Regions from separate parts of the Homo sapiens genome. Here region 1 is linked to region 2. Evidence: fine-mapped expression QTL. A gene starts in region 2. The other region holds a variant in brackets. All regions are shown on one strand. Distances are from middle to middle.

Region 1 (4,387 bases), 21 kb before region 2:
TATTTTCAATGCTTTTCACCTATTAAGTCATTTATTTTCGCCTCTATTAGATAGGTGGTATCATTAGCCCCATTTTACAGATGAAGAAACAGAGACGAGAAGAGGAGGTTAAGTCACTTGCCCAAGGTCACAGAACTAGTAAGTGGCAGGGTTGGGGTTTGAACCAAGGCAGCCTGGCCCCAGAGCCATACTCTTAAAGCCTACATATTCATACATCTAGTCTTAGAATAGAATATTGTACAGCAGTGAAAATGAATTAACTAGAGTTACATGTGGCAAAACAGGTGAGTTTCAAAAGAAAACTCTTGAGTAAAAAGATCAAATTACAGAGGGATACATGCAGTATAAAGCCACTTTTATAATATTTTTAAATGTGTAAAACAATACTGTATGTTTATTATAGATACATACGTTTGTAGAAAAAATTATTATTTTTTAAGTAGGGAAGATAAACACCAAGTCCAGGAAAATATCCACCACGAGAGTAGGGACAAAGAAGAAAGGGATCAGGAATGGATACAAGAAGCTCATGTCTTAACCTGGGTGATGGGTAAGTAGATATTTGTTGTAGAGTCTCTGTAATTTTTGAATGCCTGAAATATTTCATAATAATCAAAAATAATGCCATCTCCTACTCCAGAGCTGCATGTAACTGTAAATTAAGCTCTGAATTTCCCCACAGCCAAAGCTAAGAGGGAAACTAAGACACCAAATTTGCCAAGACCGCAGAAGCAAACCACCCAAGTTGTTCAAAAGCAGCACAGTTTTTTATTCCTTAAGCTAAAACGTGAAAGATATTTATCCCACGGGTCTTCATAGAGGAAAAAATGGTCAGTAACATTCCCACAGAAAAAAACAAAAGTATGCCTCATACAACCATTTCCTAGCATCCCTCAATGCATTGTAACAGCTTAATGTCAAAGCAGGCTTCAGAAGCAGCAGCTCAGCTGGGCGAGGTGGCTCACACCTGTAATCCCAGCACTTTGGGAGGTCAGGAAGGAGGATCGCTTGACCCCAGGAGTTCAAGACCAGGCTGGGCAACAAAGAAAGACCCCATCTGTACAAAAAAATTGAAAAATGAGACAGGGTCTCATACACCTGTAGTCCCAGCTATTCAGGAGGCTGAGGCAGGAGGATCGCTTGAGCCTGGGAAGTAGAGGCTACCGTGAGCTTTGATCATGCCACTGCACTCCAGCCTGGGTGACATAGCGAGACCCTGTTTCCAAAAGAAAAAATTAAAAATAATTAAATTTTAAAAAAGAAGCAGCTGCTCTATAAAGGGAACTGTCTTTATTGCCAGCTTCTGGGACATTTCCAGAGAGAACAGACCTTCATGAGCAAGAGGGAAGCAGGCCGACTTGACCACAGTAGCCTGGGGACTGACACAGCCTTAACTCTGGGAAGGACCCTCCTTCAGATTCCTGCTCAGGGGCCTGGGACCCATAGCTGCAGACAAGCCATAAAGATATCCTACAGTCCTGGGATCTGAAAGCATTCACCCTCTGTTTAGTTCTTCTCATGATCACTCAGACTTCTTGGACCCTGAGTCCATCCAGCTGTCTGTTGAAACCATTGGCTCTTACCTTCATCTTACAAAGGCGGGAGCCAGCTAGGCACCGTGGCTCACACCTGTACTCCAGCACTTTGGGAGGCCGAGGCGGGCGGATCACCTGAGGATGGGAGTTAGAGACCAGCCTGACCAACATGGAGAAACCCTGTCTCTGCTAAATATACAAAATTAGCCGGGCCTGGTGGCACATGCCTGTAATCCCAGATGCTCAAGAGGCTGAGGCAGGAGAATCGCTTGAACCCAAGAGGCGGAGGTTTCG[A/G]TGAGCAGGGATCCCGCCGTTGCACTCCAGCCTGGGCAACAAGAGTGAAACTCTGTCTCAAAAAAAAAAAAAAAAAAAGCAAGCTGATTATTTAGAGATGTAAAGGTACCCACCAGACGCACTAAAAACAGAAATGGTTAAAACTAGTTGGCCCCAAGAACAGGCCTGGGGTCGGAGGGGTGGAGAGCCTGTTCAGAAAATTGTGGGGAAATTTGAAAATGGACTGAGTACGAGGAAATCTTCAAAAACTGGCTGTTAAATGCCATGTTGTTGGGTTTGATAATGGTATTGTATTGATATAAGAAAGGGTCTTATTTTCCAGAGAAGCAGGCTGAAGCCTTGGGTGAGAGAGGTTTTGTGGGAACTTGCTTTAAAATGCCTCAGAAAAGCTGGAAGCTGTCGCTCATGCCTGTAATCCCAGCACTTTGGGAGGCCAAAGTGGAGGGATTGCTTAAGCCCAGGAGTTCGAGACCGGCCTGAACAACATGGTGAGATCCTGTCTCTACAAAAACTCAGAAAATGAGGCGGGCAGATCCCTTGAGCCCAGGAGGTTGAGGCTGCAATGAGCCATGATTGCACCACTTGCCCTCCCACCTGAGTGACAGAGCAAAACCCTGCCTCAAAAAAACAAACAAAAAACAAAACAAAAAAAAACACTTCAGAAAAAATATAGATGAGCAAAAACAGCAAAATATTAATAATGGTTTAGTCTACATGATAAACATATGGAGGATCTTTATATGATTCTTTTTTTTTTTTTTTTTTTTTGAGATGGAGTCTTGCTCTGTCGCCCAGGCTGGAGTGCAGAGGCGCGATCTCGGCTCACTGCAACCTCCACCTCCCAGGTTCAAGCAATTCTCCTGTCTCAGCCTCCCGAGTAGCTGGGATTACAGGTGCACGCTGCCATGGCTGGCTAACTTTTTGTATTTTAGTAGAGACAGGGTTTCACCATATTGCCCAGGCTGGTTTCCAACTCCTGAGCTCAGGCAGTCCACCTGCCTCGGCCTCCCAAAATGCTGGGATTACAGGCATGAGCCACTACACCCAGCCAATTCTCTCTACTTTTATGAATGCTTCCATAATCAAATTTAAAATGTGGGTTTGTTTTGTTTTGTTTTGTTGTGTTTGAGACAGGGTCTCGCTCTGTCAGTCAGCCTGGGGTGCGGTGGCATGATCATAAATCGAGGTTTCAGTGAAACCTCGAACTCCTGGGCTCAGGGGATCCTCCCACTTCAGCCTCTGGAGTAGCTGGGACTACAGGCACACACTACCACGCATACCTGGCTAATTTTTAAAAAATTTTTTGTAGAGATGGGGGTCTCACTATAATGCCCAGGCTAGTTCCGAACACCTGGCCTCAAGTGATCTGCCTACCTTGGTATCCCTAAGTGTTGGGATTACAGGCATGAGCCACTGTGCCCAGCCTGAAAAGATTTTAAAGAAGTATTTAATAAATCTTGGAAGATGCTGATTCTGCTCTTCTTGGAGCTCCGCTTGGACCCATGGACCCAAAGAACAGGACTTCAGGGATCTTGTAGCTCAACCCCCTCATCTTACAAATGGCTAAAAAGGTTTGAAGACTTACCAAAGTCATACAGCCAACAAATGGATGAGCTGGGGCCAGGCTGGGGTCTCCAGGAGCCTTACCCAGTGTCCTATCTACTGTCTCATGTCTGCCTCATTTTTGGACAAAAGGAGCTATTTTTAAATGTCAATAAAGAACCGGGGTACACTCAGTTCTTTTTTTCTTAAGGCAGACATTGCCTATGGGTCGATGGGTTCTCATCGTAAAAAACCCCTGACTATACCCGGAAAGTTTTATTCTCTTCAACATAAAATTAAAGTATATTCAAGTCCTTTAGATCTTACAGCCACTCCTTTGGGGGTTGGCAAAGCATGTGTCAGTCGAGCAATAAACATCTGTCATCTAGAGCTCATTAATATTAATTACAAGTGGCCAGTGGCTCAGGGGACCTCAGTCCTGCAGATGAGATTTTCCTAAATTTGACCTTCTTAGACTTACAGGTGTTTAAACTGGTTCTTTTAAGAAGCCAGTCTATGGCCAGGCGCAGTGGCTTATGCCTGTAATCCCAGCACTTTTGGAGGCCGAGGACGGTGGATCACTTGAGGTCAGGAGTTCGAGACCAGCCTGGCCAACATGGTGAAACCCCGTCTCTACTAAAAATACAAAAATTATCTGGGTGTGGTGGCACATGCCTGTAGTCCCAGCTACTCAGGAGGCTGAGGCAGGAGAATCACTTGAACCCAGGAGGCGGAGGTTGCAGTGAGCCAAAATCACGCCACTGCACTCCAGCCTGGGCTACAGAGCAAGACTCCATCTCAAAAAAAAAAAAAAAAGGCCGAGGGCAGTGGCTCATGCCTGTAATCCCAGCACTTTGGGAGACCGAGGCTGGCGGATCACCTGAGGTCTGGAGTTCAAGACCAGCCTGACCAACATGGTGAAACCCCATCTCTACTAAAAATACAAAAATTAGCCAGGCGTGGTGGCAGGCACCTGTAATCCCAACTACTGGGGAGGCTGAGACTAGAGAATCACT
Region 2 (4,387 bases):
TAAGTTTTGGAAAAAAAGAGAATAAAGAGGCCGGGCGCGGTGGCTCACGCCTGTAATCCCAGCACTTTGGGAGGCCGAGGCAGGCGGATCACGAGGTCAGGAGATTGAGACCATCCTGGCTAACACGGTGAAACCCTGTCTCTACTAAAAATACAAAAAATTAGCCAGCTGTGGTGGTGGGCGCCTGTAGTCCCAGCTACTCAGGAGGCTGAGGCAGGAGAATGGCATGAACCCGGAAGGCAGAGTTTGCAGTGAGCCGAGATTGCGCCACTGCACTCCAGCCTGGGAGACAGAGTGAGACTCCATCTCGAAAAAAAAAAAAATACTTAGATCAGAAAAAAACAAAACTTTTTTTTTTTTTGGAGACAGGGTCTCCCTCTGTTGCCCAGGCTGGAGTGCAGTGGTGCACTCTCAGCTCACTGCAACCTCCACCTTCTAGTTTCAAGCGATTCTCCCACCTCAGCATCCAAAGTAGCTGGGACTACAGGTGCCCACCACCAAGCCCGGCTAATTTTTGGTATTTTAGTCAAGACAGGGTTTCACCATATTGCCCAAGGTGGTCTCGAACTCCTGAGCTCAGGCAATCTGCCCACCTCAGCCTCCCAAAGTGCCAGGATTACAGGCGTGGGCCACCGTGCCTGGCCCAGAAAAAAAAAATTCTTAAATAATCATTATCAATACTGACAAGGATAAAGTAAGAACTCTCAGAAACTGCTAATCAGAGTGTAAACTAAGACAACTACTTTTTTTTTGGTAGAGACAAGTCCTGCTATGTTGCCCAGGGTGGTCTCAAACTCCTGGGCACAAGCTATCCTCCCTTATGCCTCCCAAAGCACTAGGATTACAGGCACAAGCCACCACATCCAGCCTGTGATTTCTTTTTATGCTTTCTTTGTGTATCTAAATTTTCTACAAGTAGCATGTGTTGCTTTTATAATAAAAGAGGAAGTATTCTTGCCACTGAGCTTAAGAAAAAGAAAAAAAAAGAGAAAAGGGATGCTAAAAAAAAATAAAGAACACATGATTTTCCTTCAAATTCCTAGTGATTGTCTCTCTCTGTCGCCCAGGCTGGAGTGCAGTGGTGGGATCTCGGCTCACTGCAACCTCCACCTCCCAGGTTCAAGCAATTCTCCTGTCTCAGCCTTCCGAGTAGCTGGGACTACAAGCACCCACCACCATGCCCGGCTAATTTTTGTATTTTTAGTAGAGACGGGGTTTCACCATGTTGGTCTGACTGGTCTCGAACTCCTGACTTCAGGTGATCCGCCCGCCTTGGCCTCCCAAAGTGTTGGGATTACAGGCGTGAGCCACCGCACCCGGCCTCTCTTAGACTTTCAAGCATCCTTTCATCTGAGTGGCTTCAAAGAGCCGGACTACTAGATCCACAGACCACGTTCCTCCTATCTCCACTCGTGGAGAAGGCCGGCATAATGATCACCATAAGCTTGGAGTCAGAGATGTGATTCCCAGATCTGCCACCCTCCTATATATTTAGTAATTACAAGAAGTTAGCTAATTTCCTTGAGCTTCGCAGTCTCCTTGAATAAAATGGAAACAAGAATGCCTTCCTTACAAGTTAGAGTAAGGCCTTTAGAGAATGAGATAATGCTTGCAAAGAGCTTAGTACAGTGCCTGGCCCAAAGCAGATGCCCAGAAACATGCGGCTATAATTGCAATGATCTTTCGGTTGCTGGGCTCCAGATTCCACTTTTCAGAACTTCAGTTTCACTATGAGGAAGGGGTGCTGCCTCCCTAATTTGGCTAGATAAGCCTTCTCCACAGGGCAAACCCCTGACTCAATTTCATGTTTGAATTCCCAGACTGCTACCGAAACCTTCCCTTCTGAAGTTCTGTTGCCTCCTGTCCACTACAGGGCTGAGCACTCACGCTCTAATCCGATCCTCGTGGTACCAGATGTCTTGGATGGGAGCTTTGGCTTTGCCATATCGCACTCGAGGCCTTTGGAAGACGGGCTCCCTCAGCGGGGGAAAGGCGTCATATACGTCAAACCACAGGGGCTTCTCCTTCAGCACCCCGGCCCGAACCAGGTCCCGAGTCCTTAGGGAGGGAACAGAACGAAACTGGGTCACTTGCAGTAGCCTGCCAAAGCCCCTGAATCAGTCTAGCACAGTTTGGGACATTAAAGGTATTATGCGGTCTGCAACACAGAACGGGGAAGGACTGCTCCCCACCTACAGAGAAGATCTGTCCACATCCCAAACCAAACTTAACAACGCTCAGGAGAGTTAAATCCCTCTATCTTCTTTTGTGCGTCCCACCCACGTTCGGTCACGGAAAAATGCAAAGAGCGGTCTTGCATGACCTGATAAGGAAGGCCCATCAGGCTCTTCCTCCCTTCCTCTTCCTAGAGACCTCCACTCGGGGAGAGGCAGCTGCAATAATCTTTAACATGACACATAAATTCAAGGAGAGGCATCCTCAGGCACAACTATTCGGAGCCAGGAGAAAACATGAGAGGGCCTCACCCAGCTCAGCCCCCGCACCCTGCAATACGCCTCGCCCTGCTCAGGTCCGCTCCAAGGAAGAGCGTGACCGGCTGAGAACCCCAGCCTGGGGGAGGCACCCTCAGCCCACCACGGCTGGGAGCACACACCGAGAGAAGATGCTCCCTACGGTTTCCAGCCGGCTGCCTGCCATGATCTGCGCCTGGTACCGAGCGTGACTAGCTGCTACCGGAACCGGAAGCGGCTGCTCCAGGTAAAGGGCGCATAAGTTGCTGGCCGAGCCAAGGATCGCTGGGCTTTCACCGCAGCCCCTGCGGGAGAGCGGCGCAGGCAGAAGCAAGTGATAGGCCGAACGGGCGCGCTCCGAGGTTACTTGCCAGGTTCAGGCAGGAGCACTCGATAGCCGAGCCAAAAGGGCAGGAGCGAGCCAAAGCCGGACAGAAGTAATAAATGACCGAGCTGTGGGAGGGATTCATCATGATGGTTGCTTTACTCTCTCTCGCCTTGTTGAGCCAACTCCTCTGAAAAGGTGGGGCCGCGCGGAGGAGAAGTAGTGGGGCAGAGCAGGGGTGAAGCGCAGCCTACAGTCCTAGGGGAGCCAACAAAGGCCGAGATTTGAGGTCACCAGCTCTAGGCCCAGGCTGAGCCTAATGTTGTTTAGAGTCACAGACTACGCAGAAGAAAACCAAGGCCGGGGAGGGGCCGTCACTTGCCCAGCGTCGTGCTAGATCTCGGGCCTCCGCCTCTGGCTGTGTAGTGCTCCCCACTAAGCCCCTCGTCCCCGGAGTGCCACCTGCATCCACGCTAACTAGGATGCTGGCTGCAACTCGTGTTTCCCGCGGCCGGTGTCGCGGGCTACCTCCTCCTTGGAACTCGAAAAGTGAAAGTGTCCGGAACAAACAGACGCCGAGAGGGAAACGAAAAAATCTGGAGAAAGTCATCTCTCAGTGTTAAACTGTAAAAAAATATAAACTGTGTGTAGCATACCCTTTGACCCAGTAATCATATTTCGGGGAAAGAACCCCTTAGAAATTAAAGCATCAATTCATGAGGATGTTTGTGCAAGGATCATCGTTGCAGCATTGTTTGTAGTGGGAAAAAAAATCCATCAGATGAGAAATAGCTGGAAAATTATTGTTCATACTTTCTTTGGAACCCTATGCAGCTATTAAAATGAATGAGCTAGATCCACATGTATTTACCAAGGTTAAGGTACATGACTTATGTTTAAATGAAAAACGAAGTTGCAAAGAAACATGTTTAGTGGAATCTCAACGTGTTAGAAAAAAAAAAGGAAAAAGAAACACCTCTATATATGTTTGTGTTTGAGGATAGAAATTCTGCAGAAGGACACCCAAGGCTGTGAACATTGGATATCTCGGAGTGAAACTGCAGGCAGGCAAGGGAGAATTTTTTCTTCCTTTACACATGCTTCAGAGTTTGACTTGTAAAGAGATTGTATTCATATTTGAACTTTTAATCCAATGAATGTTTTGAATCACACACAATGTCTCCTGGGAGCCTAGTCAAGTCATCCTAGAGTCCTCCCACTCTGAGGCTGGTGAAGGGGAGGACGGGACTGTTTGATGAGTAGTTACTGCTTGTGTGTGTTATCTTACTGAATCCACATACCTTCCCATAAGGTAGCTATTAACATCCTCATTATAGATGAGAAAGCAAGGCCTCAGGAAGTTACATAACTTGTCTGATAAGCAACTGATAGAGCCAGCCTTGGGGGGGTGGGGCAGCCAGGGCCCTTTCCAGTGCCTCACAATGCCGCCTAAGCTATGCCTAAAGCTCGAGGCTGGTAGGCTCAAGAGTCCAGCAGAACGCCGCTCCCCACCCGCCCCCCCCACAACACACACACACACACACACACACACACACACACACACGCACGCCAGGGATCCAGTGATTTGAGG

Evidence for each region. PIP is the estimated chance that this variant, and not a neighbour inherited with it, causes the effect.
Region 1: its variant is the best candidate, but not a certain one, in a credible set for the expression of MRPS23 in whole blood (TOPMed, PIP 0.55).

The regions. Positions count from the first base shown.
Region 1 is chr17:57,825,939-57,830,325 of GRCh38, forward strand. No RefSeq gene overlaps it. Among named protein-coding and RNA genes, the nearest start is that of MRPS23, 22 kb to the right of the region's middle. The variant A/G (reference allele first, on the strand shown) is at 1,830.
Region 2 is chr17:57,847,353-57,851,739 of GRCh38, forward strand. It overlaps MRPS23 (mitochondrial ribosomal protein S23), which reads right to left and starts at 2,692. Exons shown (of 5, transcript NM_016070.4): 1 at 2,615-2,692; 2 at 1,888-2,058. The coding sequence starts at 2,658. RefSeq lists enhancers at 2,673-3,002, 2,678-3,187.